Linked DNA regions of Homo sapiens. The protein of the gene in region 1 purifies or fractionates together with the protein of each later gene. This does not show direct contact. Each region holds a gene or a part of one and is shown in the gene's direction. Other genes may lie near its edges. The genes, in order: G6PD, UNC13D, PGD, PDS5A, RDX, PGAM1 and RPE.

Region 1 (3,500 bases):
CAGGCGCGCACCACCACATCCAGCTAATTTTTTGTATTTTAGTAGAAACGGGGTCTCACCATGTTGGCCAGGATGGTCTCAATCTCCTGACCTCGTGATCCACCCACCTCAACCTCCCAAAGTGCTAGGATTACAGGCATGAGCCACCGCGCCTGGCCTGTATTTTTAGTAGAGACGGGGTTTCACCATGTTTGCCAGGCTGGTCTCGAACTCCTGACCTCAGGTGATCCACCCTCCTCAGCCTCCCAAAGTGCTGGGGTTACAGGCATGAGCCACCACGCCCAGACTATTAGTTTTTACCATGTTTTATTGAAATATATGTCATGGGCCGGCCACGGTGGCTCACGCCTGTAATGCCAGCACTTTGGGAGGCCACGGCAGGTGGATCACAAGGTCAGGAGTTTGAGGCCAGCCTGGCCAACATGGCGAAACCCCATCTCTAGTAAAAATACAAAAATTAGCCGGGCGTGGTGGCAGGTGCCTGGAGTCCCAGCTACTCAGGAGGCTGAGGCAGGAGAATGGCTTGAACCCAGGAGGTGGAGATTTCAGTGAGCCAAGATCACGCCACTGCACTCCAGCCTGGCCGACAGAGTGAGACTCCGTCTCAAAAAAAAAAAGAAATACATGTCATGAAGAACACAGATGGTGCAGGTCTAGCTTGTTGATGACTTTTCACAAACTCAGCACAGCCACAGAAACTGCTCCTAGATCAAGAAACAGAATATGCTCTGCACCCAGGAAGCCCCCTCACCTGGGGCTCTCACAGTCACTGGCCCTCAAAGGGTCATTTCTGACCCACTCCCCACCCTCCGCTCCATTGTTGGTTTTCTCGCCGTCTTTTGTTGGTGCGCAAATCTTAACTGTACAATTGGCTGTACACCCTCATCACAATAAAGGCCATCGTCATCTCCCCAGAAAGTTCCTGGGTACCCATTCCCAGCCAATCTGCCCTGCTCCAGGCAACCGCTGATCTGATTTCTGTCACAATGGGTTGCATCTCTGATGCTGAGATTTCCCAGTGTTGCTGAGTAGTATCCGTTGTATGAATGCACAGTTTGCCGGGTCACATGTTAATTCAAGTGTTTGACTTGTTTCCAGTTTGGGGCCGCTATGAACCAAGGCTGCTGTGACCATTCGTGTGCAGGTCTTTGTGTGGACTTGCACTTTCATTTCTCTTGGGGTGGAACGGCCAGGTCACAGGATAGGTGTGTGTTTCACTTGATCAGAGGGAGCACCCGCACCACCTCACAGCTCAACTTCAGCCATTTTCATTTTCTTGCCTTACTGCACTTTTCTTGTTCCTGATTGCTTAAAGGGATGATTAATATTTCAGCATTTCCTATAAGTGTGATATTTGTAGTATTTGTAAGGATGATGGTTTGGGGGTTTTTTTGTTCTTTGTTTTTTGGTGGTGGTTTTTTTTTTTGAGACGACGTCTAGCTCTGTTGCTCAGGCTACAGTGGTGTGATCTCGGCTCACTCCAGTCTCTCCCTCCTGGTTCAAGCGATTCTCCTGCCTCAGTCTCCTGAATAGCTGGGATTACAGGCATACACCACCATGTTCAGCTAAGTTTTGTATTTTTAGTAGAAATGGGGTTTCACCATGTTGGTCAGGCTGGTCTCAAACTCCTGACCTCAAGCGATTCCCCGCCTCGGCCTCCCAAAGTGCTGGGATTACAGGCTTGAGCCACCACGCCCAGCCAGAATGGTGTTTTATAGATGCCCTTTATCAAGTTAGTGAAGTTCCCTTGCATTCCCCCTCTGCTAAGAGTTTTAGCGTGAATAGGTGATTTCTGAAACACTTGATCTACATCTGTTGGGTTGAGCAAGATTGCTAGATTTAAAAAATCAAAACATAGCAGTAGGCAGAGAGTTCTTAGAGGTTTTTTTTAATCTCTTAATATGGTGAATTTCAATGATTTTTTTCTGTTAATATCAAACCAACTTTTTATTTACAGATGTATTTATTCTGTAAATAAAAAACCTACCGTTTTTAACATTGCAGGATTTGGTTTGCTGATGTTTTCTTCTTTTTTTTTAAAGAGACAGGGTCAGTGGGTCGTCGTGGCTCACGCCTGTAATCCCAACACTTTGGGAGGCTGAGGCGGGCAGATCACTTGAGCCCAGGAGTTCAAGAGCAGCCTGGACAACATGGGGAAACCCTGTCTCTACAAAAAATACAAAAAATTAGCTGGGTGTGTTGGCATGTACCTGTAGTCCCAGCTACTCCAGAGGCTGAGGTGGGAGGATTGCTTGAGCCCAGAGGCAGAGGTTGCAGTGAACTGAGATCGTGCCACTGCACTCCAGCCTAGGTGACAGAGTGAGACCATGTCTTTAAAAAAAAAAAAAAAAAAAAACCTCCTGATTTCAAGCAATCTTCCTCCCACCTTGGTCTCCCAAAGTGCTGGGGTGTGTGAGTTGTGCCCGGCCTGCTGATATTTCGTGTGGGATTTCTGCATCTGCATGTGTGTGTGAATGAGGCGTATGGGTTTTCCCATGTGCCTTTCTCATCAGGTTTCCGTACCAAGGCTCTGTAGGCCCCATAAGGTGGCTTGGGAAGTGTTCCCCTTTCTTCCTTCTGCAGGAAGAGTTTGCTTCAGGCTGGAATTCTCTTGTGCTTGCATTTTGGTAGAACCCACTGGCAACACTCTCTATGCCAGGGGGTTGTTTCTGTAGGAAGATTTGTGGCCACTGTCCCCTCTCAGGTCCATTGCTCTGTTTTTTGTTTGTTTGAGACGGAGTTTCGCTTTTGTAGCCCAGGCTGGAGTGCAGTGGCTTGATCTTGGCTCACTGCAACCTCCGCCTCCCAGGTTCAAGCGATTCTCCTGCCTCAGCCTCCTGAGTAGCTGGGATTACAGGCATGGGCCACCATGCCCAGCCAATTTTGTATTTTTAGTAGAAACGGTTTCTCCATGTTGGTCAGGCTGGTCTTGAACTCCCGAACTCAGGTAATCCATCCGCCTCGGCCTTCCAAAGTGCTGGGATTATAGGCTTGAGCCACCGCGTCCAGCTGTTTAGTTGTTTTTTTGTTTTTTGTTTTTTGAGACGGAGTTTCACTCTTGTCGCCCAGGCTGGGGTGCAATGGTGCAATCTTGGCTCACTGCAACCTCCATCTCCCGGGTTCAAGTGATTCTCCTACCTCAGCCTTCCGAGTAGCTGGGACTACAGACACCCGCCACCACGCCTGGCTAATTTTTTGTATTTTTGGTAGAGGCGGGGTTTCACCGTGTCAGCCAGGATGGTCTCGATCTCCTGACCTCTTGATCCGCCTGCCTCGGCCTCTCAAAGTGCTGGGATTACAGGAGTAAGCCACTGTGCCCGGCCTATGCCCTTTTAAAAAAGCAACCATGCCAGGGGGTTGTCTGTTTCTATTCGTCTTTTTCAAACACCAATTTCCAGCTTTGTTCATCTTTTCTTTGGGTTAGCTTTTAATTTTATTAATTTTACTTGTCATTATTTCCTATTTTCTTCCTGGTAATTTGGCTTGCAGTTCTATCTTTT
Region 2 (3,500 bases), on another chromosome or scaffold:
TCTCCCCCATCCTCTGCCCTCCCACGGGACCTCGTTTGTGTGATATCCCCCCAAACCATCTGAAAGGAAGTTCTCACTGATGCTTGCCACATGTGCACGAAGGCTCAGGTTCATAGATCCTATTTTTCTTTTCTTTTCTTTTTTTTTTTTGAGCTGGAGTTTCCCTCTTGTCGCCCAGGCTGGAGTGCCATGGCACAATCTCAGCTCACTGCAACTTCTGCCTCCCAGGTTCAAGTGATTCTCTTGTCTCAGCCTCCCAAGTAGCTGGGACTACAGGTGCCTGCCATCACACCTGGCTAAATTTTGTATTTTTGGTAGAGATGGGGTTTCACTATGTTGGCCAGGCTGGTCTCAAACTCCTGACCTCAGGTGATCCACCCGCCTCGGCCTCCAAAAGTCCTGGGATTACAGGTGTGAGCCACTGTGCCCAGCTAATCCAATTTTTCAAAAACAGCAAGAAATCCTGAAGTTTTAAAATCACAAAGATCTCAATCTGGGCAATTTGAAAAGCATCTATGGAAACAAAGAAAAAAAATCCTGGCTGGTCACAGTGACTCATGTCTGTAATCCCAGAACTTTGGGAGGCCGAGGCGGGTGGATCACTTGAGGTCAGGTGTTCGAGACCAGCCTGGCCAACATGGTGAAACCCCATCTCTACTAAAAATAAAAAATTTAGCTGGGCATGGTGGTACATGCCTGTAGTCCCAGCTACTTGGGAGGCTGAGGCTGGAGAATCGCTTGAACCCAGGAGGCGCAGGTTGCAGTGAGCCGAGATCACGCCACTGCACTCCAGCCTGGGTGACGGAGTGAGACTACATCTCAAAAAAAAAAACACAAAACAAAAACAATCCTGCATGTCCTGTTGAGCCACTAGTTTTCAGCCTGTACTGGTGGATGGGAGGCGATTCCCCCCACCTGAGGCCGGGTGAACAGGGGAAGGCAATTTCCTCCTCCCTGTCCAGCTGAGGGCTTCCTGTCCCCTGCAGGCAGTGGCTGGCCTACAGCCGCCTCTACCAGAGCCTGGAGTTCCCCAGCAGCTGCCTCCTGCACCCCATCACCAGCATCGAGTACCAGTGGATCCAGGGTCGGCTCAAGGCAGAACAGGTAGGCATGCAGTGGCAAGGGGCACTGAGCAGGCAGGGCTCAGGGAAGGGGCAGGGGAGCAGCAGCAGCTGTCTAGGCCCCTAAAGCATCTCCTGGCTCTTCAGCAGGAGGAGCTGGCCGCCTCATTCAGCTCCCTGCTGACCTACGGCCTCTCCCTCATCCGGAGGTTCCGCTCTGTCTTCCCCCTCTCTGTCTCGGACTCCCCAGCCCGGCTGCAGTCTCTTCTCAGGTCAGTGGCTGCCTTCCTCTTCCTCGGTGGGGTCAGGGATGAGGGAGCAGCTGGGGTGCCTGCAGGAGTGGGAGAATTGTTGGAGGAGTGAGTGCAGTGTGGGGCAGCAGGCACTTTCGACACAGCTCTTTCCATCTTGCAGGGTCCTGGTACAGATGTGCAAGATGAAGGCCTTTGGAGAACTGTGCCCCAACACCGCCCCATTGCCCCAGCTGGTGACTGAGGCCCTGCAGGTATGGTACTCGCGCTGGGGATGGGGGAGACCAGCGCCTGGGCCTGGCAGTCCCTCCCTGCTCACTGCCTCTTTGTCGACAGACTGGCACCACTGAATGGTTCCACCTGAAGCAGCAGCACCATCAACCCATGGTGCAGGTGAGGGGCTGGGCAAGGGGGAGGGCAGGGGGTCACGGGGGGTGGTGCCTGCCTCTGGCAGCCCTGCCCAGCCCACCTCTGTCTCTGCAGGGCATCCCGGAGGCAGGCAAGGCCTTGCTGGGCCTGGTACAGGATGTCATTGGCGACCTGCACCAGTGCCAGCGCACATGGGACAAGATCTTCCACAAGTGAGCAGATAGCCAGGTCGGGAGGTAGTGGGGCATTGCCTCAGAGCCGGAACCATGGGGACCCTGGTGTATGCCACTGGGTGACACCTGCTGCCTTTCCTCCAGTACCCTCAAGATCCACCTCTTCTCCATGGCTTTCCGGGAGCTGCAGTGGCTGGTGAGTCCCTCCCCCGTCTCTAGGGCATGCCCTCCAACAGAGCTGTGGGCCCCGCCCTCCACACCTTTCCTTTGCAGGTGGCCAAGCGGGTGCAGGACCACACGACGGTTGTGGGTGATGTAGTGTCCCCAGAGATGGGCGAGAGTCTGTTCCAGCTCTACATCAGCCTCAAGGAGCTCTGCCAGCTGCGCATGAGCTCCTCAGAGAGGTGGGCAGCAGGCCAATTGTGGGCGGCTGCAGGGGCACAGGGGAGGGGAGGGTGGACGAGGCCCCAGGGTCCATGGTGGCCCCAGCCTTCCCGACGCTGAGCCCCGGCAATCCCCAGGGATGGAGTCCTGGCCCTGGATAATTTCCACCGCTGGTTCCAGCCGGCCATCCCCTCCTGGCTGCAGAAGACGTACAACGAGGCCCTGGCGCGGGTGCAGCGCGCTGTGCAGATGGATGAGGTGGGGGCGTGGCCAGGGCAGGGGGCGGGGCCCCGGTTTGGGGGTGAGGCTTGGGTTCTGCCTGGACCTCCAAAGCGTAGTAAAAGCCAGTAACCCGCTCTGAACATCCCTTTTGGGTGCACTTGAGTCCAGTTTTGTGCAAAACGCTGCCTCTGGATATCCTTGGGGCTGTGGCTTCACTTTGCCTGAGATCCTGCAGCCTGGGGGTCTGGGCGGAGCCGTGCTTGTCTCTTGTGAAGCTCCCTGCCCAGCTCTGTGCCTGGTGATGGTAGCTGCTCTATGAATGAAGGAAGGAGGGAAGGGGGTGGATTTGGCAGTATCCTGAGTCCTCCTTTCTTCCCCCAGCTGGTGCCCCTGGGTGAACTGACCAAGCACAGCACATCAGCGGTGGATCTATCCACCTGCTTTGCCCAGATCAGCCACACTGCCCGGCAGCTGGACTGGCCAGACCCAGAGGAGGCCTTCATGATTACCGTCAAGTTTGTGGAGGTGCGGCATCTTCCACGTGTCCTTCCCCCTCTTTCTAGAACAGCCACACTACCACCCACCGTTTCTCCCGTGCTCTCACCCAGGCAGCCTCCCAAGGCCTGTATTCTAAATCCCCCAAGTCGCTGAAATTCCCATGCCCTCCCACCTGCCCTTCCTGGATGCCCCACCCATGGATCAGTTCCCTCTGTCCAACCCCACCCTAGGACACCTGTCGCCTGGCCCTGGTGTACTGCAGCCTTATAAAGGCCCGGGCCCGCGAGCTCTCTTCAGGCCAGAAGGACCAAGGCCAGGCAGCCAACATGGTAAGGCCAGAGCTGGGGCTGGGAGTCTAGCTGGGTGTGGGGACCAGCCTGGGCACAGTTCAGGAAGCTCTGCATCTCTGTCCCAGCTGTGTGTGGTGGTGAATGACATGGAGCAGCTGCGGCTGGTGATCGGCAAGTTGCCCGCCCAGCTGGCATGGGAGGCCCTGGAGCAGCGGGTAGGGGCCGTGCTGGAGCAGGGGCAGCTGCAGAACA
Region 3 (3,500 bases), on another chromosome or scaffold:
GCATGGTGGCTCACGCCTGTAATCCCAGCACTTTGGGAGACTGAGATGGGAGGATCACTTGAGGTCAGGAGTTCAAGACCAGCCTGGCCAACATGGTGAAACTCTCTACTAATAATACAAAAATTAGCCGGGCATGGTGGAGGGCACCTCTAATCCCAGCTACATGGGAGGCTGAGGCACAAGAATCACTTGAACCTGGGAGGCAGAGGTTGCAATGAGCCGAGATCTCACCACTGCACTCCATCATGGGTGACAGAGCGAGACTCGGTCTCAGTAAAAAAGAAAAAATGATTCTTTTTTTGAGACGGAGTCTTGCTCTGTTGCCCAGGTTGGAGTGCAGAGTGCAGTGGCGCGATCTCTGCTCACTGCAAGCCCCACCTGCCAGGTTCACGCCATTCTCTCGCCTCAGCCTCCCAAGTGGCTGGAACTACAGGCACCCACGACCACGCCCAGCTAATTTTTTGTATTTTTAGTAGAGACGGGGTTTCACCGTGTTAGCCAGGATGGTCTTGATCCCCTGATCTCGTGATCTGCCTGCCTCAGCCTCCCAAAGTGCTGGGATTACAGGTGTGAGCCACTGCGCCCAGCCAAAAATAATTTTTTTAATTACCTTTCTGGTGAATGAGTCTGGGGATTCTCTTCAGTGTGTTATTAATAAAACACAGAAGTAGAGAGGCCTTTCTGCTTCTCAGAAGTTTAAACAGCTGTGTGTGCAGTGGCTTGCACCTGTAGTGCCAGCTATTCAGGAGACTGAGGTGAGAGAACTGCTTGAGCCCAGGTGTTCAAGGCCAGCCTGGACAACATAGCAAGACCCTGTTTCTTAAGAAAAAAAAAAAAGGTTTGAAAATACTTATCTCGAAGCACCTGCACAGTGAGCAGTTAGAAAGGCAACCAGCAGACAATGCACGTAAAAGTATTTGACATATGGAGTGCTCCAGTTGTTTCCATCAGTTCTCTTTCCTCATACTGTGGTGGCAGAAGTACAAATGGCACCTTTACCAGAAGGACACTGTAAAAGTTCAGTGAAGCTCTGCGGTTTCCGGTGTGGCTGTCTTCATCCCTAATCCTAAATGTTAACTTTGCAACCCTGTAAGATTTCATGTCTGTACCAGAAACTTTTTGTGAGGAAGCCTTGACTGGCCATTAGGGAGCAGAACAGTGAGGGAAAGTCTCAAGAGTAATATATCCGCGTGCTGAGCTGTGGAAGGAATGAACAGCGGCCTTTCTCTGAATGGTAATGTAGCTCTCAAAAACGCTGCCTGGTTCTTAATCCAAATGTCCAGAACCATTCTGTGCCTGGCAGCACACATCCAGACAAATGAAAGAGGGTCTCTTCACTTGCTAAAAGCCATTATAAGGAGAAATAAAGAAAAGGGAAAAAATTAAAAGAGGATCTCTAAAGGAACTTTCGTATTGCCTGCTGTTTGCAATCATACTGTCTGCTGCTGCTGCAGTAGAAATTTCTGAGCCGGGTGCGATGGCTTATGCCTGTAATTTCAGTGACTCAAGAGGCTGAGGTGGGAGGAGTGCTTGATCCGAGGAGTTCAAGACCAGCCACATCAACATAGGGAGACCCCATCTCTGCACCACCAACAAAAAATTAGCCAGGCATGGTGGCTCACGCCTATGGTCCCAGCACTTTGGGAAGCTGAGGTGTGAGGATTGCTTGAGGCCAGGAGCTCAACACCAGCCTGGGCAACATAGCAAGATCCTGTCCCTACAAAAAAAAGTTTTTAATTAGCTGGGTGTGATGGCACACACCTGTAGCCCCACCTACTTGGGAGGCTGAGGCAGGAGGATCACCTAAGTCCAGGAGTTTGAGGCTGCAGGGAGCCGTGATTGTGCCACTGCACTCCAGCCTGGGCAACAGAGTGAGACCCTGTCTCTAAGAAGACATTTCTTCTGGTGCTTTGGTGATGCTTCTGCTCAGCCTTTCTGTCTGTAGTCTCAGTCCGATAGTCCAGTCTGCTTTGAGGGCCCACCAGGACCTGGAGGAGGGGCCAGTTTCAGTCAAGGGTCTGCAGTTGACCTTGAGAACTTAGCACATTCATTATCTTTTTGTGGGCACTTCCACCTCCCATTAGAAAGAAAAAGATGGGCCCAGTGCGGTGGTGGCTTATGCCTGTAATCCCAGCACATTGGGTATCCACGGTGGGTGGATCACTTGAGCTCAGGAGTTCGAGACCAATCTGGGCAACATGGCAAAACCCCATCTCTACAAAATCCAAAAAAATGAGCTGGGTGTGGTGTCACATACCTGTAGTCTTAGCCACTTAGGGGGCCGAGGCAGGAAGATTACTTGAACCTGGGAGGTTGAGGAGGCTGCAGTGAGCTGAGATCACACCACTGCATTCCAGCCTGGGTGACAACGTGAGACCCTGTCTCAAAAAAAAAAAAAAAGAAAGGAAAAGATAGGGGTTGGTGTCTATGGGTATGTTGGTGTCTATGGGTATGGGCTCTCAGCCCGTCTCTTCTCATTAACTGAACCACACTGTTTCTTTACACAGGCCCCACATCAAGACCATCTTCCAAGGCATTGCTGCAAAAGTGGGAACTGGAGAACCCTGCTGTGACTGGGCAAGTTCTGGGCTACTCTTTAAAGCCAATTGGCAACATGGGCGTGTCTAAGTGATGAAGTGCGTGGAGAAAGGCCACCGTGGTCTCCCAGGGGTTAGCTTGGTGACATAAACGTCTCGATCTTTGATTGCTAGAATAGCCAACGCCTAGAATGCATGCCTGCTGTTCACATCTTTGTATCTTAGCTGACTGTTCATAGCCTTGAGGTTGATATTAAAAGCAGCCTTCTATAATTCATCTAAAAGATGAATTCTTTAAAAAGGAATAGGATGAAGTGAAATAAGATTTTTTCGAGCCATATTATTTCATGGCCAAAGGAAAGAATGTCAGAATCAAAAGTGGCGTTTGCTTGCATGGGTGAAAGGTGGAAGATTGAAGGTACTGTTGCTGTGTCAACATTCCATGAACGTGGAAAATTCCCCATCCTGTAGTGTGGGATTCAGGCATTCTGTGCTTGAACAAAGTAACCTGTGGACTTGCACCCTCACTGAATATGAAGGAGGCCTAACCTAGTTCATAGTACAGTGGTGCGATCTTGGCTCACCGCAACCTCCACCTCCCAGGCTCAAGCAATCCTCCTGCCTCAGCCTCCTGAGTAGCTGGGACTGCAGGTGCATGCCACCACGCCTAGCTAATATTTGTATTTTTTGTAGAGACGGGGTTTCACCATGTCACCCAGGCTGGTCTCAAACTCCTGGACTCTCAAGTCATCTGCCTGCCTTGGCCTCACAAAGTGCTGAGGTTACAGGCATGCGCCACCATGCCCGGCCTCGTGTTGCTGTTAAAGTAAACTTTATCTCATATTGTAGTTCAGCCATGCTGTGGATGGAAAAAAGCATTAGGCTCAGGAGACCTGAGTGGCAGTTCTGGCTTTCCATAAACTTAACTGTGACATCAGGCAAGCCACGTCCCTTCATGGACTT
Region 4 (3,500 bases), on another chromosome or scaffold:
CCTGTAATCCCAGCTACTAGGGAGGCTGAGGCCGGAGAATTGCTTGAACCCAGGAGGCAGATGTTGCAGTGAGCCGAGATTATCCCATTGTACTGCAGCCTGGGCAACAGAGTGAGACTTGTCTCAAAAAAAAAAAAAAAAAAAAGAAAGAAAAGAAAAAAAGACTGTCATTTTGGCAGAAATTCTATTACGATAGTGTTGTATCATGGTTACTAATCCCTTTCCTTGCTTAAGGTTTTGATGTTTGTTTACATTTCAAAATATCTGACAAAGAGTGTTTAGAGATTAGTAATTCTCAGAGGTCATCTGGGCACCTGGAAATATGGATGGGATTTCTGAGAGAAGAAAATCTGTGTTCCTGGAGAGAGAAAAGTTTAGAATAAACACAATAATGTAAATTTGGCATCTTGAATCTGCATCATTTTTGATACTTCATTTTTCAAAATAGTCTATAGTGCTTCATGTATATGCCTTAGCCTTTTTAATAAGGCCTTCATGATTTGATCTGTGTCTGTGGAATGCTCCAGCTTCCTTATGCTCCACACACATGCCTTGTGCTCCAAGCGTATACATGTTTTTCAGTTTGTTTTATGTCCCTTGCACTTTGAGATTTTCTTTCCTTGTACCAAAACTTTCTAGCTACCTGTATTTAGTACATCTTTCAATCCCTGTATTACTTATTAATCTTTCTAAACCTCTCAAATATTTTCTCTCATAAGAAGGCTTATATTTACCATTTGTACTAAATTGTTTTAAATCCTAATAAATATATTTCCCGGTATTTAAACTTTTAGGTAGATGTAGAAGAATGGTGTATATACAGCATGCAACAAGAAAGGTTGTAAAGCTGAATAATTTCCAGTATTGTTATGTAATGTGTGTTTTCATATTCATAACTTTACAGAGCTCTCAACGAAATGTGGAAGTGTCAGAACATGCTTCGGAGCCATGTACGCGAACTATTGGATTTGCACAAGCAGCCTACAGTAGGTTCATGATTTGTTTAAATTCATAGTTTATTATAGTCACTGTTCAGATTTTCTGTAGTTCTACGTAATGAAGCAGGGAAAAAGTATCTCAGTTGTTTTATTTTCCAAATGTCAGTTAAATATAATTTCTGTAGTTGTCCAAGCTAAATTTCCATTTAAAATAAATATAACAAACTCTTATTTTCTAGTGTGAGCAAAGAAATGGTGTTTTCTAGTTTATATAAAGTTTTCAGACACTAAGAGTTTATAGTTAATCAATTTTCAAATAATTAGAATTAAATTTTGAGATAAAATTACATTAAACATCATATTTCTTTTTCACTGCATGATTCATGGTCTCTCAGTGTAGAGTGAATATCAGATATCAATCCTATAAATATGCCAATGGCAAACTAAAAAAGAAATGCCATTAAATTTTTGCAAGGTTGGGGAAAAAAACTTTACATTTTTACGTGTGTTCACTAGAATAGGTGTTCTTAACCAGGGGACCATATAAACAGACCCCTCAAGGACACATGGATGCTGGAACAGGGGCGGGCAAACTTTTTTTTTTTTTTTTTTTTTTTTTTTTAATACACAGGATCTTACTCTGTTGCCCAGGCTGTCGCATAGTGGCATGATCACAGCTCACTGCAGCCTCGATGTCACTGGGCTGAGGTGATCCTCCCACCTCAGCCTTCTGAATAGCTGGGACTACGGGTGTGCTCCACCATACCCAGCTAGGTTTTGTATGTTTTTTGTAGAGGTGAGTTTTCACCATGTTTCCCAGGCTGGTCTCAAAATCTTGGGCTCATGCAGTCTGCCTGCCTAGGCCTCCCAAATTGCTAGGATTACAGGTGTGAGATACTGCACCTAGCCTAGCAAACTTTGAAAATAAATCAACAGATAGCAAAAACATATTTTGCAAGGCATAGAGTCTGTGGTCAGATATTCAACCCTGCCTTTGCAAAATTAGTCATACACGATAAATAAATGAATGGACATGACTATATTCCATCGAAACTACTAACAAAAACAGGTAGCTCATGGGGGCATAGTTTTCTAACTTTTGAACTAAATTATTCAAATTTAGTATAAATGAAAACTAATAAGTAATGTTTTATGGGATACAGGAAAGGGAAGTACGTTTTAGAAAGGAGGTTTTCCTGAAGGTATTTAAGTAACGGGCCACAAAGTAGCTAACAGAACTCTATTGCAGAAAAAAAAGTTTCTTCTCTATATTTTTAGTTAATTTTTTGTGGCATGTAGTTTCATAGTAATTCTGATATGATAAGTTTATATGTTGATTGCTTCATTGATCTTTTTTCAATCTTCTGGCAATGTAACTTTCCTGTGAAAGTTATATACTTGTGGGTTTTTAAGTACCTTCCTCCCAACATCTCCTTTCCTTCTATTTGTCTTAATAGTTGCTACTATGTAATTCTTTGTTGTTAGTTTAGCGTATATATGTGGTAAAACCATTTTCCATTGAGCAGACTGTGATGAACTTTATTTTTTAACGTCATGAAAAATGTACAGTAATGAGTATTGATTTTTGTTAGGGAAATTTGTTAACACATATGACTAGTTGTTCTTTTGTTTCTGTTTTAAATTTCAGTCAGAGGCTAACTGTTCTGCCATGTTTGGAAAACTGATGACCATAGCAAGTGAGTATGTTTATTTACTCACTAAACATGTAGTAAACGTAAATGCAGACAAAGTATTTACCCAGTGGGACTACTGATTTAATGTTAAGTAAAAGAAAATAATCTTTATCTTAATTTTGTTTCTAAGAACCAGCTAGGCTGATTTTCTTTTAGTGGCTCCGCAATATTTTGATGGCACCTGTTTTTAGCTTAGTAGAATAGTTTTTTTTTTTTCCTTCTCTAATATTGATTCTCTTTTAATTTTATAGAGAATTTGCCTGACCCCGGGAAAGCACAAGATTTTGTGAAGAAATTTAACCAGGTTCTCGGCGATGATGAGAAACTTCGGTCTCAGTTGGAGTTATTAATTAGCCCAACCTGTTCTTGCAAACAAGCAGATATTTGTGTGGTTAGTAAATCATACTTCACACTTTTTCTCTAGCTTTACTTACAGAAATATGTATTTTATTAAAGCCTGTTTTACATACAGTGATTTGTGTAAATGTAACAATATTGTGAGCTCTGAATTACTTTGGAGTATATCTATTGTCAAGTTAATTCTCTATTTACCATTCACTCTCAGCCACATTCCAGGAAAATAACTAAAGAACTAAGCCAGGGAGATTGGTCTTAGGAATTTTACAAGATAAAGTACTTTGAACTTAGTAGACATTCATTGAGTAATGATAAGTATTTTCTGAATGCTTGTGTACATGTGCATTTTCTTCTTTCATGTATTAGAATGGAAATAATCGTCAATAAATTAGTAGTAGTAACATTGCCATATATCTGGTTTCATTTACAGATAAAGTAAATTCCTATCTAGACTTTTGTCTTCATTCTTCTCTTGAACTCATTTAAAACCAATATTCTTAAAGCTATCAGG
Region 5 (3,500 bases), on another chromosome or scaffold:
CTAAACTGGAGTACTTTTGAGAAAAAGGGGGTATTGTTCATAATTACACCAGGACAACAGTGTAACAGGACTTTTCCAGGTAAACCAAGATAATATGATCACCCAAATAATTGGTGATGTTAGATATTTCAGGTTGTATCATATCAGAAGACACTTAATATCTAGTTAACTCACCATTAGTATTTTTTAGTGATCATTGGATTTGAGTAACGACAGTCTCATTCCTCCGTTATTCGGTTACATTTTCCCCTTGTGGCTCAAATAAAATCTATTGGGTGTGAGATTCTTAGGCATTATATGAATATCTATTTCTCATCAACTATTTGCACAACAGTTTTAGCAAACAATTGATAATCCTTGCCAGAATTAATAGTTCTTTTTTTGCATGTATGCTTGTTTTTCTTTTAATCTGTCACTTTGAAGCTCACAGAGTAATTCTAATAGGGTTTGCATAATAATGTTTTTGATTTTCTCTTTTACCTGTTGACATTCTTTTATGAAAATAGAGGTTTCATAAATAGGGCCTATTTTCATTACCTTGAAATACAGTTTCTATTAAAAAGGGAGTATAACTTGATTGTTTTGATTATTAATTTTTGAAGTAAGTTGCTCATAAACGTATTTTTAATGTTCAGGCTTTTGCAGCCCAGGAAGACTTGGAAAAGACCAAAGAAGAGTTAAAAACTGTGATGTCTGCCCCCCCTCCACCTCCACCACCACCAGTCATTCCTCCAACAGAAAACGAACATGATGAACACGATGAGAATAATGCTGAAGCTAGTGCTGAATTATCAAATGAAGGGGTAATGAACCATAGAAGCGAGGAAGAACGTGTAACCGAAACACAGAAAAATGAGCGTGTTAAGAAGCAACTTCAGGTATTTAAAATTTGCAGTTGTATGTGCATTTGAAATATAGTTTGCATTTTCCCCATCTTAGACAAACTTAGTTAAAAAGAATATAGAAGTTTTAATACTGGCTGCCCTTGTGATTGGTTTGTGGGTGTTTGGCCTATAGTCATGTTATTTCATTTCTTCCGTTGTGTGAACCCATTAGCAAATACCTGTTAGCTTTGTATAATCAGACCTTAACTAGTGAGTTATTTAATTACAGCTTGACCCATTTTAAAAGGTAGAAAGTATTCTAATGTCATGTTGAAAAACGTGAATTTAGTTTTTGATCAGTAATATGTACATTGAGGGCCAGGCGCAGTGGCTCACACCTGTAATCCCAGCACTCTGGGAGGCCGAGGCAGGTGGACTGCCTGAGGCCAGGAGTTCAAGACCAGCCTGGCCAACATGGTGAAACTCTGCCTCTACCAAAAATACAAAAATTAGCCGGGTATGGTGGTATGAGCCTGTAATCCCAGTTACTTGGGAGGCTGAGGTATTGCTTGAACCTGGGAGGTGGAGGTTGCAGTGAGCCGAGATCATGCCACTGCACTTCAGCCTGGACAATAGTAAGTGACTCTGTCTCAAAAAAATAAAATAAAATAAAATGTACATTGGAAAGAATGATAGTTAATATACTATGTTTAAGACATTACATAATCTTAATTATTTGTTGAGATTTTATATTGGCAAAAGGTCAGTATATTACATGGACATAACTAGGTCAAAGTAGAGGATTTTAATATTATGAGCTTTCTTTTTTCCCAATAAGTTATCTAATATTTTAATTGTTAAAATCTTTAAATATTAAAAGAAAATGAGGTGATAGTTACAATAAATGTATTAAGACTTTTGGAGAAGGCTTCCCTTGAGGTATAGATTTTAAATCTCATAGTAATATTAGTCTGTAATGGCTACATTGAACTTTTTAGCCATTTCAAGTATTAGATTAGAAAGTTAAGGAAATTTAGAATAATGTACAAAATACCATGGTTGATAAATGTGGAAAGGCCATGTGTATTCCTCCCTTACCACTGCCACCACTATTACTAAAACAAACTTATACCTAAAGAAAAAGGTTTCACAGTGGAAATGATTTGGTATATGTATTTTTGCATCTTAAAGCCATTTTCATAAATTTTTTTAAATCTAAGAAAAAAATAATAGTTGTACTTTTTATTTTTTAAATAGGCATTAAGTTCAGAATTAGCCCAAGCCAGAGATGAAACCAAGAAAACACAAAATGATGTTCTTCATGCTGAGAATGTTAAAGCAGGCCGTGATAAGTACAAGACTCTGCGACAGATTCGACAAGGCAATACAAAGCAGCGTATCGATGAGTTTGAAGCAATGTGAGAGCTGTTATTTTGCATATATGTTCTTCATAAGCTGAACCACCAACAGAGAAAAGCAGGCCTTTGCAGATATGATGGAATGCATCCCACCTTGCCAAAGCACTTACACCAGTTTGACTGTGCTAGCTAAAAGACAAATTTAAGGGGAGCTCTTCAACATTAAGGCAGTATGATATCATGCTTGGTTTTCTTTTTTCTTTTGGTCCAGGGAATGGAGAATGGTGTTCCATTGCCTCTTTTCACATTTTTTTTCTTTTTCTTTTTTTTTTCTGTTGAAGATTAACACTAATTATCACGTCTGACAAATGTGTATGTGTGGTTTCAGTTCTGTGTACATTTTAAAGGATAATGGTGAACATTTTAATGGGTTTCCCTTGCCCTTTCCATATTTAACCTATTTCCACATTCTCTCTCACTCACATTTTCTCAGTGTGCCCTTCTCTTATCTGCCATGTCCATAGCCATAATTCCACCATCATACAGATCAGGCAGTGTTTAAAATGATGGTAGGTAGCACAGTGGACAGTCTTTGATCATCATGTAGAATATGGCTATGAATCAGGAAAGAGATTAGAACATTTAATAATGTATGTACAGCTGGTGCTTAGTTTTTTTTTAATCTAAATTTAATTACCTTATTGGATATTTGATATTTGGTTATTTAATCACAGTCATCTTTAACAGCTTACACTGATTGGTGTTTTATCTCCTGTGATCCTTTGATGGCTTTTTTTGCCTACCATTTCACAGAGGTTTAGACAGCAGTAGTAGCTCCCTAGGAGAGTTTACTGATGAAACAGCCTCTGCAAGATTTTAAAAGTTTTGTTCTTTTATAGACTGATTTAGAAAAACAAATGATTAGTTAAAAAAAGAAAATATACATTTGTTGGTAACTAATGTTATTTTTTAAAACCTGGACCTTTTCTGGAAGGGCAGCATATAAAAACATCAGTCCCGAGGAGGGGACAACAATACTACCTCACTACTACATCTGTGATGACTGGTTGTTCAAACACAATGGAGTGTGTAAGGTATATGTTTTATAATTCATAACCATAGCCTCGATCATCAAGAAATACTTTCGAAATTTCATTTTCCTTCAGAATATCTTAAGAGTGCTAAATTTTTAACTGCCTTTTTGTCGAGTCAAACTGTGGGATTCTGATTTGTATTAAAATTGTAAGCTCCTCACTGGTATACTATCATCCTGGAGGGGTGTTGTATGGCTGAGCAAGAGAGAGAGAGAATGAGAGAG
Region 6 (2,377 bases), on another chromosome or scaffold:
CCAGGAGTTTGAGACAGCCTGGGCAACATAGTAAGACTGCATCTCTACAAAATTTTAAAAGGCCAAGCACAGTGGTTCATGCCTGTACTATCAGCACCTTGGGAGGCCAGGAGTTCAAAACCAGCCTGAGCAACAAAGCAAGACCTTGTCTGTACAAAAGAAAAATGAAAAATTAGCTTGATGTGGTGATGCTCATCTGTAGTCCCAGCTACTCAGGAGGCTGAGGCGGGAGATCGCTTGAGCCCAGCAGTTTGAGGTTATAGTGAGGTATGATTGTGCCACTACATTCTAGCCTGGGTGAGAGAGTAAGACCTTGTCTCTTAAAAAAAAAAAAAAGGAAAACAAATATATATAAAAGAAAAAATTCTCCTTAGTCACAACCAGGCACAACTTTACACATGAATCTCAATTTGCATCTTCATCCCCGAGGGCCTAGAGGCCCACGTGTGCTGATTTTTGGTTGGATGGGCTGTACAGGGTATTTGAGATGTGTAGTCTTGCTTCACTGTGGGCTTCTAGATCCCACTTTGGTAGAGATATCTGGCCATATACCTTGCTGTAGTTTGTTGGTGGTCTATCTTGTATACCTTTTCTTGCTTTTCAGTTTAATGGCTGAGAAATAAGTATGGTGGGGGCCATTCCCTGGGTTCAGAACTACTATAAAGATCAGAAAGGGTGTCTTATTTTAATTTCTGTCAAAGTCCTTTATCACCTGGAGGACAAAGTAAACCTGGAGGGGTGATGTGGATTTATGTCTTGTGTGGCTGATGATGGTGGATGTTTTCAGGTCTCTCTGAAGAGGCTATCATGGAGCTGAACCTGCCGACTGGTATTCCCATTGTCTATGAATTGGACAAGAACTTGAAGCCTATCAAGCCCATGCAGTTTCTGGGGGATGAAGAGACGGTGCGCAAAGCCATGGAAGCTGTGGCTGCCCAGGGCAAGGCCAAGAAGTGAAGGCCGGCGGGGAGGATACTGTCCCCAGGAGCACCCTCCCTGCCCGTCTTGTCCCTCTGCCCCTCCCACCTGCACATGTCACACTGACCACATCTGTAGACATCTTGAGTTGTAGCTGCAGACGGGGACCAGTGGCTCCCATTTTCATTTTAGCCATTTTGTCGCCTGCACCCACTCCCTTCATACAATCTAGTCAGAATAGCAGTTCTAGAGCACAGGTTCTCAGTCTAAGCTATGGAAAAGCTCCCCTTATCCAACAGAGTTTAAAAGTAGTGACTTGGGTTTTTGCGAGTGCTTTGTTTACTAAGGACTTTGGGGAGGAACCATGCTAAGCCATGACCAGTGAGGAGAAGCAACAGAGCCTGTCTGTCCCCATGAGCGGAGTCTGTCCTCTGCTCTTCTGCAGTCAGGTCACTGCCTACTGCCTGGGGGCTCTAGTCATTCCAGTGGAAGACGAATGTAACCTGCGTGGTGATGTGACAACTGTTTCCTCCCTGACCCCAGAGGATCTGGCTCTAGGTTGGGATCAATCCTGAATTTCGTTATGTGTTAATTTACTTTTATTAAAAAAGTATAGTATATATAATACAAAACAATAACCCTTCTGGGGTTTCTTGTGGCGGTTGAAATAGTCCCACATGTGGTCATCAGAAAATAAGCCATTCCTCATACCAATATAGGATCAGCTCCTTGACCTCTGAGGGGCAGGAGTGCTTCCTGGTGTGTGTATTAGAATCCCTTCCTGCCTTGTTTCATGGCAGTGAAATGCCTCTTGGTCCTGTCCAAGTGTATCTTTCACTGATTTCTGAATCATGTTCTAGTTGCTTGACCCTGCCACATGGGTCCAGTGTTCATCTGAGCATAACTGTACTAAATCCTTTTTCCATATCAGTATAATAAAGGAGTGATGTGCAATAGCTTCTTGTGTGATGTGGAAGACCTTATCTGAGGAAACTTTAGCATTTAACTTGAAATGTCTCTCACTGCCCTAGTCCTTGTGTGGCAGTTTGTTTTAGGACATCCAGTCACAACTTTACACGGTTGGTCAAAAAATGACGCATCTCCTTGGGGTTTTCACGTCAGCCTGGTGAGCTGAGGTGGTGGTGGGAGGCCCTCCTGGCCAAGCCCTCCATTCACGTTGCCCCCTGCAGCTCTTGCTTGGTGCTCCCCTGATTGGAAAGTCACATTCTGAACTCCATTATATCCTCTTTAGAGTAAGTAAAGTCTGCTTTTTGTTTTTTCTTTTTGAGACAGCCTCGCTCCGTCGCCCATGCTTGAGTGCAGTGGCATGATCTCAGCTCACTGCAGCCTCCCCCTCCTGTGTTCAAGCAAGCCTCCCACCTCAGCCTCCTGAGTAGCTGGGACCACAGGCATGTGCCACCATGCTTGCTTAATTTCTGTATTTTTAGTAGAGACGGGG
Region 7 (3,500 bases), on another chromosome or scaffold:
AAAAAACAGTTCAAAGACTTGCTAGCACTGGGCCCTCAGTCTTACCAGGTGACATGCGCTGGAGCTGACAGGGGCAGCCTCACCTTTAGTCATGTGGGGTGTACTTCATTTGGCCCCTTTCCCTATCTGCTCTGTTTTGCTCTTTGATGTTACCTAACTCTCAGCAGCATTGAGTTTGTGATTCCTGATTCACAGGAAGATTGTGTTCTAGTTACAGTCCTGTACCTTTTATAGCAACTCTAATCCTCCTCTTACCATCTTTGCCTTGTTGGGAGATAGGGTAAATGGCTTGATCTGTCTGCAGTAGATTGTGTTAGAATTACGTAAGTAAAGCTTAGGAGTGATGATGGAACATGAGAGAGAAAATTGTATCCTTGTATTACAAAAAATTATAGTGTAATTCCAGTAAGTCCCTGGAAGAAAGGGATACCTTTTTATTTTATTTTATTTCTTTCACACTTAACTAACTCCAGGAAATAACTTAAAGGAAAAAGAGGCAGAATAAGATAATGATGAAGCAGACTTTTTAGTGAAGTTTCTCTCTGTTAAGTGAAATAATTAAGTGTTTTCCAAGCTGGTCTGTTAACTCCCTCTGGCATTTGTTCAAAATTCAGATTCCCGGTCCTCTTTGGAGTCAGTAGGCTGAGGTAGAGACTGTAAATACATTAGAACTGCTCTCATGGTTACTGTTTGGCAAATTTGGGACACCCTGACTTCGTGCTTAGGATTGTAGCCCCTTTTTGTTATGGCTTAGCGTAGCCTTTGGGTTTTTTTTTGAGACTACTGATGCATTCTTGTTCTTCCAATATACTTCGTGAACCTAGTGCATTGAATTGATTTTCAAAAGCACAAATTAAGTCACGTAACTTTGGGGTTAGTATTTTTATACGTTTTGTTTAGGTTTTCCCAAAAAAGTAAAAGTGTATTTTTTTTGGTTCTTTTATTTACTCGGGAGGTGGTTATTATACTTTTATTTTCATAATAAATGAAACCTACTGTTAAGACAACGAAACTATTTCCCAGACTACACAGCAAATTAAAAGAACAGTATGTGAAATTCAGATCTTTAATTCCAGAATTGTAAAACATTCAATAGGCCTTACTGCCTGCTTCTGTGACCCTTATTTCAAGTTCTAAGTAAACACATGCATCTTATCCACAGCCCTGACAATCATTGCTCAGGCAAATGTTAGAATCACTTTTTTAATGATAGAAATTAAACCTCCAAAGACCAAGGTGTTATTGAGTGAAAGTGTCTGTTCCCATCCACCTTATGTGTCCCTCTCAGATGTGTCCTGAATCCTTACCTCTCTCTCTTGAATCTCTTCTCCGCTAGACTTTTTCCCCTTGTTTGTTTCGTTTGTTGTCATTATAGGGACAGATGAGCATAGTAGTTAAGAGTCTGGACTTTGTAGCCATAGTGCCTATGTTTAATTCCTGCCTCCAGCACTTACTGGTTGTGTGACCTTGGGCCTCTGTTCCTCATCTGTAAAATACAGTTAATAAAAGTACCTACCTCATAGGGTTGTTGTGAGGTTTTAATGATTTAATATACAGAAAGTCTTTAGAACTGTGTGTGGCCCACATATAAGTTTGGTTTTTATTAGCACTCATTCTACCTGTCATCTAACTGTGAGACCTTAAACATAGTTTGTATTTTAACTCCCCTCCCACACACCTAATCATTTAACAGATCCAATCAGTTTTGCCTGTCTTGTCATTCTTAGTGTTCCTTGCCACTTACCAAGTGGCAATTGCAGTCACCTACCCTCTTGTAATTTATTTCCCATCCTATCTTATTTATTAATATTTCTCACTTTAAGATCTTACTTCATATTTACAGCAGGACAAAAGTCCAGACACTGAGCTTGGCATTTGACACCTTTAATGTGATACTACCAACCTCCCATCTTTTTTTTACACTAGCCAAAGTTGGTCAATACCACTCTCCACGTCTTTGACTGTAACTTGCTTATTTCTGCTTTTGCTTCATTTTCAGCCTTTGTTTCTTTTCCCATCTTTATAAATCCTATTTTGTAAATCTCATGAACTTCTTTCTTAACGTTCTCTAATACTTGCTCTTATTTTATGTATGTTTTATCTATAATCACGTTACCTGCCTGTTATTGTATAGCTTTTCTTGTAATCCTCATATAGGATAATACCTGCTGCTTTAACAAAGCCCAGATTTCAGTAGCTTAGCATTCTAGTTTCTCATTCATAAAAGAGTTCAGTGTGAGTGTTATTCCATTCTGTGGCTCTTCCATTCTGTAAGGGCTTTGTTGGCAGAAGGGTAAAGTGGCAATAGGAAAGGAATTCTCCTTAACCTTCTGAGCTCTGCAGTGACACACTACTTGCACTCACAGTCTGGTGGTGAGAGTCACATGAGCCACTTGGATGTAAAGGGAACTGGGAACTGGGATGTAAAGTCACATGGGCCACTTGAATATAAAGGGAACTGGGAATGAAAAGGTTTGACTGAGTTGACATCCCACTGACAACTATACGATAGCAGTAGGGTTGTGAATTCTGGTGAGTCATTCATTAGCTGTCAATCTCTGTCATAGGAACTGTAGCGTATTTCCTTTACAAAACAGTATTCTGAAGCACCTAGTATGGTACTTGCATATAGGGGATTTTTTTTGTTTGTTTTTGTTTTTTTTTTTTTTTTTTTTTGAGATGGAGTCTTGCTCTGTTGCCCAGGCTGGAGTGCAGTGGCGTGATCTCAGCTCACTACAGTCTCCACCTCCTGGGTACAAGCGATCTTCCTGCCTCAGCCTCCTGAGTATCTGGGATTATAGACGCACGCCACCACACCCAGCTAATTTTTATATTTTTAGTAGAGACGGAGTTTCACCATGTTGGCCAGGCTGGTCTTGAACACCTGCCCTTGTGATCTGCCACCTTGTTCTCCCAAAGTGCTGGGATTACAGGTGTGAGCCACCATGCCCGGCCCCGGTTTTGTTAAAGATTTAAGTGAACTAGTGATAGAACAAAAAGATTAACTGGAGTAGGGTAAAGGATAAGTACCGTGGGTCTGGTAGACTTGATTTGTTTTTGTTTTTGTTTTCGTTTTTGAGGTAAGTCTCGCTTTGTCGCCCAGGCTGGAATACAGTGGCACGATCTTGGCTCACTGCACCCTCCACCTCCCAGATTCAAACGATTCTCCTGCCTCAGCCTGCCTAGAAGCTGGGATTACAGGTGCATGCCACCACTCCCAGCTAATTTTTGTATTTTTAGTAGAGACAGGGTTTCACTATGTTGGCCAGGCTGGTCTTGAACTCCTGACCTCAAGTGATCTGCCCGCCTCAGCCTCCCAAAGTATTGGGGTTACAGGCGTGAGCCACTGTGCCTGGCTGGTAGACTTAATTTGAATCCACTTCCACAAATTATTAACTGAGTTACTTAAGGATTTTATTTATCTTGTGCTCTTCAAAGGGGATAATAATAGCATCTACTTTGTAAGGCTGTCGTGAAGATGAAATGAAGTAAATTACGAT

The links.
Region 2: the proteins of G6PD (region 1) and UNC13D fractionate together in Homo sapiens (co-fractionation; one large-scale study listed by BioGRID). This does not show direct contact.
Region 3: the proteins of G6PD (region 1) and PGD fractionate together in Homo sapiens (co-fractionation; one large-scale study listed by BioGRID). This does not show direct contact.
Region 4: the proteins of G6PD (region 1) and PDS5A fractionate together in Homo sapiens (co-fractionation; one large-scale study listed by BioGRID). This does not show direct contact.
Region 5: the proteins of G6PD (region 1) and RDX fractionate together in Homo sapiens (co-fractionation; one large-scale study listed by BioGRID). This does not show direct contact.
Region 6: the proteins of G6PD (region 1) and PGAM1 fractionate together in Homo sapiens (co-fractionation; one large-scale study listed by BioGRID). This does not show direct contact.
Region 7: the proteins of G6PD (region 1) and RPE fractionate together in Homo sapiens (co-fractionation; one large-scale study listed by BioGRID). This does not show direct contact.

The regions. Positions count from the first base shown.
Region 1 is NC_000023.11:154,536,847-154,540,346, reverse strand, and holds part of G6PD (glucose-6-phosphate 1-dehydrogenase), read left to right. Parts: intron 1-3,500. UniProt on the Homo sapiens protein: Catalyzes the rate-limiting step of the oxidative pentose-phosphate pathway, which represents a route for the dissimilation of carbohydrates besides glycolysis.
Region 2 is NC_000017.11:75,834,405-75,837,904, reverse strand, and holds part of UNC13D (protein unc-13 homolog D), read left to right. Parts: intron 1-986; coding exon 987-1,104; intron 1,105-1,208; coding exon 1,209-1,333; intron 1,334-1,475; coding exon 1,476-1,566; intron 1,567-1,648; coding exon 1,649-1,705; intron 1,706-1,795; coding exon 1,796-1,893; intron 1,894-1,998; coding exon 1,999-2,050; intron 2,051-2,127; coding exon 2,128-2,258; intron 2,259-2,375; coding exon 2,376-2,496; intron 2,497-2,841; coding exon 2,842-2,985; intron 2,986-3,188; coding exon 3,189-3,287; intron 3,288-3,373; coding exon 3,374-3,500. UniProt on the Homo sapiens protein: Plays a role in cytotoxic granule exocytosis in lymphocytes. Required for both granule maturation and granule docking and priming at the immunologic synapse.
Region 3 is NC_000001.11:10,405,564-10,409,063, forward strand, and holds part of PGD (6-phosphogluconate dehydrogenase, decarboxylating), read left to right. Parts: intron 1-2,507; coding exon 2,508-2,577; intron 2,578-3,500. UniProt on the Homo sapiens protein: Catalyzes the oxidative decarboxylation of 6-phosphogluconate to ribulose 5-phosphate and CO(2), with concomitant reduction of NADP to NADPH.
Region 4 is NC_000004.12:39,897,912-39,901,411, reverse strand, and holds part of PDS5A (sister chromatid cohesion protein PDS5 homolog A), read left to right. Parts: intron 1-904; coding exon 905-986; intron 987-2,586; coding exon 2,587-2,635; intron 2,636-2,883; coding exon 2,884-3,023; coding exon of another isoform or gene 3,024-3,056; exon of another isoform or gene 3,057-3,398; intron 3,399-3,500. UniProt on the Homo sapiens protein: Probable regulator of sister chromatid cohesion in mitosis which may stabilize cohesin complex association with chromatin. May couple sister chromatid cohesion during mitosis to DNA replication.
Region 5 is NC_000011.10:110,230,615-110,234,114, reverse strand, and holds part of RDX (radixin), read left to right. Parts: intron 1-635; coding exon 636-878; intron 879-2,081; coding exon 2,082-2,246; 3' UTR 2,247-3,500. UniProt on the Homo sapiens protein: Probably plays a crucial role in the binding of the barbed end of actin filaments to the plasma membrane.
Region 6 is NC_000010.11:97,431,568-97,433,944, forward strand, and holds the end of PGAM1 (phosphoglycerate mutase 1), read left to right. Parts: intron 1-787; coding exon 788-957; 3' UTR 958-1,877; downstream 1,878-2,377. UniProt on the Homo sapiens protein: Catalyzes the interconversion of 2-phosphoglycerate and 3-phosphoglyceratea crucial step in glycolysis, by using 2,3-bisphosphoglycerate. Also catalyzes the interconversion of (2R)-2,3-bisphosphoglycerate and (2R)-3-phospho-glyceroyl phosphate.
Region 7 is NC_000002.12:210,005,638-210,009,137, forward strand, and holds part of RPE (ribulose-phosphate 3-epimerase), read left to right. Parts: intron 1-3,500. UniProt on the Homo sapiens protein: Catalyzes the reversible epimerization of D-ribulose 5-phosphate to D-xylulose 5-phosphate.